Regions from separate parts of the Homo sapiens genome. Here all the other regions are linked to region 1. The links come from fine-mapping of genetic effects on gene expression. A gene starts in region 1. Each other region holds a variant in brackets. All regions are shown on one strand. Distances are between the middles of the regions.

The links.
Region 2: its variant is fine-mapped to the expression of RHOH in whole blood (INTERVAL, PIP above 0.99).
Region 3: its variant is fine-mapped to the expression of RHOH in whole blood (TOPMed, PIP above 0.99).

The regions. Positions count from the first base shown.
Region 1 is chr4:40,195,655-40,198,416 of GRCh38, forward strand. It overlaps RHOH (ras homolog family member H), which reads left to right and starts at 1,377. Exons shown (of 3, transcript NM_004310.5): 1 at 1,377-1,646. RefSeq lists an enhancer at 2,350-2,449.
Region 2 is chr4:40,255,905-40,258,666 of GRCh38, forward strand. No RefSeq gene overlaps it. Among named protein-coding and RNA genes, the nearest start is that of LINC02265, 50 kb to the right of the region's middle. RefSeq lists an enhancer at 2,128-2,762. The variant A/G (reference allele first, on the strand shown) is at 1,702.
Region 3 is chr4:40,263,889-40,266,650 of GRCh38, forward strand. No RefSeq gene overlaps it. Among named protein-coding and RNA genes, the nearest start is that of LINC02265, 42 kb to the right of the region's middle. The variant A/C (reference allele first, on the strand shown) is at 1,478.

The DNA of each region.
Region 1 (2,762 bases):
AGGCTGGTCCCGAACTCCTAGGTTCAAGCAATGCTCCCCGCTCAGCCTCCTAAAGTGCTGGCATTACAGGTGTGAGCCACCGCCACTGCACCTGGCCTCCCACAGAGGATTTTCTAGGAGATAATGTGCTCTTCAGAAGGCTCGAGGATCTCAGCTGGCAGATTGAGTTCTTACTGTGCATTAACAAATTGACACATGGGTTCATGTGGAAGTCTTGTGAACTTGGTAATTGGGTGTCTATTGATAAGAATGCTCACCTTGTACCATTGATTCCCTCTACAACTATGCTGCAAGCACAGTCATCTGCTTTCACTTCTTTGAACATGCCAACCTCTTTCCCACCTCAGGGCCTTTGCACATACTATTTGCCTCTACGTGGAATGTTCTTTCCTCCTTCTCATCCATTAGAGTGGCAGCAGTACTTTAGAATAATCAGAGGGGTTTAAAATAATATTGATGTCCGGTCCCAACCCAGCTCAATTAAACTCAAATCTTTGAGTGTGGGGCCGATGCACTGATAAAATAAAATAAAAGGCATGGAGTTGACTTTATCCTTACGGTCGGCAGGTATTTTGACCAAGCTATCACCGTGAGCAGTAGCATCAACAGTTAGTTATTCAGGGATTTGGGGCACAGGCGGTTGTGACCACATCACAAAAGTTCAATTTGTTGGGTTAGGCGTTTAGCCATAACCTAAGTAGTTGCAGATGGTCTCTACACCTGGATTGCCCATTAGGACAAAACAAGTAAACTTGTGTTTTTAGGCAAATAATGAAACTCTGAGGAGTCTGAAAAAACAACTCATCGCCAGGTAACTCCCAGCCCAGGTGCTCGTCCATACAGGGGTGAACGCACGGCAGGGGGCTGCTCGAACTCTCACTAAGCCTGCCTCTGTTCTTTGCAAAATATTTGATAGTTTTTAATGCAGCAAAGCGAAGCAGACAATCCACCTCTTGTTTTCCCCAAGCTGATGGGGGGAAAGTTCTAAGGTGTTGTTTCCTAAGCTCAAATTAACCAAGATTGGTCAGTGGCATGGACTTTTTTTTTTTTTTTTTTTGGTAATTTTACTTCCATGAGGAATCATTTGGACTCTTCAGTCTTCCTTTCTTCAGTTTTACGTAGGGCTTTGCTGGAGGAAAATGGGGCTAAGGGGGAGAGAAACATAGTCTCGGAGTAGGGTGGGGGATAAATTAAACGCAAACCCAGCGGTGCGGCAAAGGCCTTATTCTGCCTCTGATCTGGGGAAGTTTCATATTCTAATGGAGAGAAACGCACGTGCACACACACCCCCCTAAACCCACACAAATGAAACCCCCTCTGCGGAGAAGCCGGCTACAGGAAATTGACTTAGGCACAGGAACTTGCTAATCTCTTTTGTCACATTCGGATTGCTCCTGCTGCCCCACACACACTAACCCAACCATCTTGGGGTGGACTCCCTGCCAGCCCAACTGTTGTATTTTCAGTTCTTCCAGTGTGAATCAGTTAATATTCTCGGGAACGAGGGAGAGGTTGATCCTATGAGGAAATCAACCACAGTGAAAAGGCTTGGGCCGCTTTTGTTTTCACCTGCTTTTGTTGAACAAATTTGATTTCCGGAGTCAGTCATTTTACTGTCAAGACATTTCTTCGGCATTCTGCAACAGGTAAGGATTTTGCTTCCTTAAAAGTATTTCTTTGGTGTCAAAAGAAATTTTTCTAATTTTATTTAGCTTTTACTCTAGGCCAAACATCGTAATGACTCTGAGCTACCTGCTGTAAGGTGTAGAATCAATTTACAGGGGGACGGGGGTCGGGGGGGTGAGTGTTGCTTTGATATTCACTGCCCCTCACCACAGTCCTAACAAGATTTTTGAAACATGAAAAGTTACAATAGTTGGCTTTTTGGTTTTCCAGATATTCTAGAGAATGCATATGCTTGTGACTGTGGCTGAGCTCAACTGTATGGGTAGTTTAAATACTACCCAAGGTTTGATGAAGTAAATCTAAAGATGCTCTAAGTTGTGCAAATATGAATTTTAAAGTTGTCTAGTTCAGAAAAGAAACAGAACCGAAGTCTAAATGATGTAGATTTCAATCTGGAATTTCTAGCTTGTGTTTTTCACCTATTGCCAATGTTAATGACCATTTCCCAAAAGTGCTCTATGATGTATAACATGTATTTTTTAATTAAATTTAATCTTTCTTCTGAGGTGGTTTGATTTGGAGATATGCTACGAGGTACCAGTCAGTAGCCTGAGTTGTAACTAAACAAAGTTTGGGAAATCACCGGTTTTAGGTGCTTTACTAAATGAAAGTTGCCATTGACGTATTCAAGCAGGCAACAAGTAGTTGGTGTCCCCTTATTGGTTCTAAGCTGGTGCCGTGGAGGATATAAGAGAAATATTTTAAAAATCTCTACTTTGAAGGACCCTATAATCTGGTAGTTGTGATAAGAAGTAAAATTTAGGAAGCAATGCAAGATGAGAATTCAGTGATGAGTGGGGCAGCACAGGCTTGAAGAGTTCTGTGAATTCCATGGAGGGGGCCTGGGGGCAAACTGGAGTTGTCAGGAAGATCTGGGCTTTGGAAGAATGCGAAGTGTCGGTAGAAGGAGAAGGGGCAGGTGATTTCAGACTGGGAGGACCTTGTGGGCAAAGGCACAAAGGCGAGACTGACCTGGAGATGATAAGGCCAGTTGAAGAGACACTGGAGAAGAGAAGACAGTTTGTTTTACACATTGCAGGAAATCAGATTAGACAGTTAGGGTGTGGACACAAAAG
Region 2 (2,762 bases), 60 kb after region 1:
TCTCTTGCTCCAAACTCCCTTTTTTCCATTCGATGATGCTTTCATCTGATGCTCTGGATGACCCTGTGAGGTGTTAGTGTAAGAGATGAGGTCCAGGAGGGTGACATGGCTCATCCAGGCCACACACATGCACTCACTGACCAGAAGTGAGGTCTTCCATCCAAGCCTTGGCTGTCACTATTTTCACCCTTATTGTCAGAGCATATTTTTTTAACTGAACCCACTTACTGTGTGGTTGTCTGCTAGGCATTCATTGAGTAAACAGATATTGATGCTATCTCTGTTTAACAAATGGAAAAGTCAGAAAGAAGGAAATAATCCATAAATCCAGGCCTCAAACTGTATTTACCTTACTTCTCTGGATACTGCATGCAAACCCATACAATTTTTTTTTAATCTCTTGTTAGTGTAGATCCTTTCATTGAGCTCAAACCTAAATCAACATGGCAGAACATTTTCCCCGGCTTCTCTGTTATTTACTGGACTCCCATTTTTTGGAGTTGAAGGGGACCTCAGGGAGGATTTAGCCCAATCCTATCATCTTACAGATGAAGAAACTGACTCTCCTCTTTGCCCAAGACACACAGATGGCTTTGGGCAAGTCGGGACTTGAGGGCCAGGCTTTGGCTCCCAAGGGCTCTCACTTGTTCCTGCAGGCCTCAGAACTTCCAGCCTCTAACATGGAGCTTTGGACTCTGCCTATTCGTTTCAGGTTTCTGTGATGGAAGTTTAAAGGCTGCTGGGTGTGGTGGCTCATGCCTGTAATCCCAGCGTTTTGGGAGGCTGAAGCGAGCAGATCACCTGAGGTCAGGATTTCCAGACCAGCCTGGCCAACATAGTGAAACCCCGTCTCTACTAAAAATACAAAAGTTAGCTGGGCGTGGTGGCAGGCACCTGTAGTCCCAGCTACTTGGGAGGCTGAGGGAGGAGAATCACTTGAACCCAGGAGGGAGAGGTTGCAGCGAGCCAAGATCATACCACTGCACTCCATCCTGGGTGACAGAGAGAGACTCCATCTCAAGAAAAAAAAAAAGAAAGAAAATGTCAGAGACAAAGGCTAGCACATGAAACCAGTGAGTAGAGAACAGGAAGACACAGGACACGCCAGCCAGCCAGAGGCACTGCCTGGCTTATTAGCAATAAGCTCAACTGCTAGAGCTGTGTGTCCTGAACAACTCAGGCTGGGGCTTTGTGTGTTCAGGGGCACCCCAGAGATACTCTCCCACCCCTTTCCCCAAATGCTCCTCAGGAAAATCTGCAATCTAGCCTGGTTGGCACAAGTGAAAGAAATCATAACGGAAAGAGATTCTTTATATTGATGTCTTTCTATGTCTATCCTAAGAAAACCCACAGATATTGCACATTCATTGGTGAAAAGATTAGAAGCAATGAAACAAAATGATAATAAAAAACACTTCAATAGCTACTGTTACATCTTTTTTTGTCTCTACCATTCCAGACTTTTTCTTATCCACATATGTGTGTATTTTTACAAAAATAGGTTCGTATGGTGCAATCTGATTTGCAATCTACTTTTTTCATTTATTATATTGTGAACAGCTTTCAGTATCAGTATGTTAACGAATATACATACTCCTACACTGTGTAATGGCAGTGTGTTAGCCTAGATTTTTCCAAGGAACCTGTAACCATGTTTGTTAATTGTATCCATGGGCTTCTAAGGGGTGTGTGTGTGTGTGT[A/G]TGTGTGCATGCACACATGCATATATATATATACACACACACAAATAGATATATACATACACATATATAAATAGCCTTGCTTAGACTCATAGTAATAACCTCAGATATATCCAGCACTATGTACTTTACATATATTAATTTATTTACTTATTGTAAGCACCCAAGATAAAAGTAGAATTTTCATCCACCCTTTACAGATGAGGAAACTTACTCAAGGTAAGACACTGGCATGTGGTAGAGTCAGGATTCAGTCCCGGCAACCTGGCCCCCAGCCTGGCCTCCTGACTACCACCCTTCCAATAATGGGCCCACCTATTGGGTTGCACATTCTAACTCCTTGGTTACATAAACTGGGAGGGCTTATAGGGAACATCCCAATCCTGGAAAGAAAAATCTTAGTATGACAGATGTAAAGTCCAGAGAGTTTTGTTTTTTTTTTCTGAGTCTTACTCTGTTGCCCAGGCTGGAATGCAGTGGTGTGATCTTGGCTCACTGCAACCTCCGCCTCCCGGGTTCAAGCAATCCTCCCACCTTAGCCTCCTGAGTAGCTGGGATTACAGGTGTCTGCCACCATGCCCAGCTAATTTTTGTATTTTTGGTAGAGACAGGGTTTTACCATGTTGGCCAGGCTGGTCTCCAACTCGTAACCTCAGGTGTTCTGCCTGCTTCGGCCTCCCAAAGTGCTGGGATTACAGGCATGAGCCACCGCGCCTGGCCACAGAGATTTCTTTAACTTCCTTTCAAGTCACCTGCACGTTCCTTCCAGAGTGTGGCGACCATCGGCCGGCTCTCCTCTCTCTGTCTTTGCTGCTCCTTCGCATCCCCACCCCGGCCTCCATCTTTTTCTGCCGTCCTTCTCTGCCTTTCCTGCAAGGTTGGCCTCCATGGTGAAGGTGCTGTATCAGATTCCCTTTGTCCCCGGAGGAGGCTCAAGCCTTGCGGATGACCCAGAGTAGAACAGCTAGGAAACCAACACGCCTCCCTCTTGATACTCTTGACACCAGTCAGAAGAAACTGCTGTGTGTTTTAGGCTCGCCTAGTCACTTTCCTCCATTTTAACA
Region 3 (2,762 bases), 68 kb after region 1:
TGTTAATCGATCTTACATCAATTTAGCCTTTGTGCCCAGCTGAGACCCTAAGAGCATGGAAGTGGATGGAGTTTTGCTGTCCTTACATCTCCTCAAGTAGAGTCCTGGAGTTCCAGGGTATTACCGTAACCACCCAATGGGTTCACCTTGCTGGGTGCCTAGACAGAGTTGATTTCTCAGGACAGGGGAATTGCAATAGAGAAAGAGTAATTCAGGCCGGGTGTGGTGGCTCATGCCTATAATCCCAGCACTTTGGGAGGCCGAGGAAGGTGGATCACGAGGTCAGGAATTCAAGACCAGCCTGGCCAAGGTGGTGAAACCCCGTCTCTACTGAAAATACAAAAAAGGTAGCTGGGTGTGGTGGCGGGCACCTGTAATCCCAGCTACTTGGGAGGCTGAGGCAGATAATTGCTTGAACCCAAGAGGCAGAGGTTGCAGTGATCCGAGACTGAATCGCTGCACTCCAGCCTGGGTGACAGAGTGAGACTCCGTCTCAAAAATAAAAAAAAAAAAAGAGAGAGAGAGTAATTCATGTAGAGCCGGCTGTGCGGGAGACTGGAGTCTTATTGTTACTCAAATCAATCTCCCTGAGCATTTGGGGATCAGAGTTCTTAAGGATAATTTGGTGGTATGGGCTCGGAGAGTGGAGAGTGCTCACTGGTCGGGTTGAAGATGAAATCATAGGGGGTCGAATTGAGGTGTTCTTGCTGACTTCTGCTCCTGGGTGGGATTGCAGAACTGATTGAGCCGGATTATCAGTCTAGGTGGTGTCATCTGCTGCATTGGAATGCAGAGTCTGCAAAATATCTCAAGCACTGATGTTAGGTTTCGCAACAATGATGTCATTCCCAGGAGCAATTTGGAGAGGTTCAGACTCTTGCAGCCAAAGGCTGCATGGCTGCTAAACTGTAATTTCTAATCTTGTAGATAATTTGTTAATCCTACAAAGGCAAACTGGTCCCCAGGCAAAAAGGGGTTTTTCGGGAAAAGGCTATTATCAATTTTGTTTCAGAGTGTAAACTATAAACTAAATTCCTTCCCAAGGCTAGTTCAGCCTATACCCACAAATGAATAAAGACAGTTGAGAGGTTTGAAGGAAGATGGGGTCAGTTAGGTCTGACCTCTTTCACTGTCATAATTGCCTTAGTTAAGATTTTTGCAAAGCCGGTTGCATTATCTGCTCCGGGTCAAGCTCTGGGCTGTTGCTTCTCCCTCAGGCCTGAGATGGGAGGAGCAGATGCCCCATGGGCCTGGGAAAGGGGTCAAGCAGGTGCCTAGTGCCTGAGGGCGAGCAGGGGCTGCCTGAAGCGAGAAAGTCAGAGGGCTTGCCTTTGCGGCAACACTGCCAGTTCCCACAGGGTCGAAGCTCCTCCTGAGTAGTGGGCAGGGAAGAAGCCAGCCTGGGCCTGGGCTCCTTGGGGAGACAGGACTAACGCTGGAGCCTGGGCCACTGCAGGCCTGTGATCTGGAACCCAGC[A/C]AAGCCTCATCACCCTGCAGCTGTGGGAGCAGGCAGAGCCCTCCTGTGGTTTTAACTCTGTGGCTGTCACTCAGGGACCATTTATCGGCTGTTCTTTTTCACAACATTTCTGTTAGCTTGAGGCTTGGGCCGAGAGAAAAGAGGCTGCTGAAAACCGTCTGCGTCTGTTTTCTTCATGCTATTGGTAGGAGAAACACACTTGTCACATACTGAGTCATTTTTCTGCTTCAACCTCAATCTACTTTCTCTGAAAAAGTGAATCCATGTGGAAGAACTTATGGGAGAGGGATGAGGGAGAGAGGGAGGAGCAGAGGGAAGGGAGAGGGAGGAGGGAGATGGCAGCCTGTCCAGTGTTTCTAGCCTGCATCATATTGTGGAAACTTGACAAGTCTAATTCTCTGCCATGGCGAGGGTGAAGGGAAGAGGCGGAGGCAGAAGAGAAAGAGCAGAGCCTTAGGCAGGTGGTAGGTACAGCGCTGCCAGCCTGCAGGATCCTTTGTGAGAGTCAGAAAATGGTGCCTGCTCTGCCTGCACACCGCCCTATGCCAGCCCACAGAGTTTTGGCAAGCCCAGCACAGCTAGATTTCAGTCTCCACTGTCCCCTCTGCCTTGTTCAGTGAACGGCCTGTGCAACTGTGATCAGCAGCCCTGACTGGAGGAAGACTCATTCCAAATGCTGTGGCAGATGAAGGCTCACAAGGAACTGAAATAAGAAGTGGTAAAACTGCCCTCGGTTATGGCTACAGTATTCGATGAGTGTAAAGGTACAGTCCATTTCCAGAAAGCCTGACTATGAGGCCATCACTCTTACTCATTGAGTACAGCTCTTTACTTTCTCCATCGAGGCATCCACCAAACTCTACAAAATCTAGTTAATTGCTCCCTTCCCTCTTCCACCAAACTTGGACTCTCTCCTTGTTTCTATAAACCAAAAGGTATCTGAGACAGGTCTCAATCAATTTAGAAAGTTTATTTTTTCAAAGTTAAGAATCTGCTTGTGACACAGCCTTGGAAGGTCCTGACAACATGTACCCAAGGTAGTCAGACACATCTTGCTTTTATGCATTTTAGGGAGACACGAGACATCAATACATGTAAGATGTACATTGGTTTAGTCTGGGAAGGTGGGACAACGTGAGGCGGAGACTTCCACGTCATAAGTAGTCAAAAGACAAAAGGCTGCAGTGGACTCTTCGGAGTCCTTGATCAACCTTCCACTGAATACAAAATTTAGTCTGGCTCAGTGAATCTGCAATTTTACATAAATAATAGGGCAGAGGAAGCA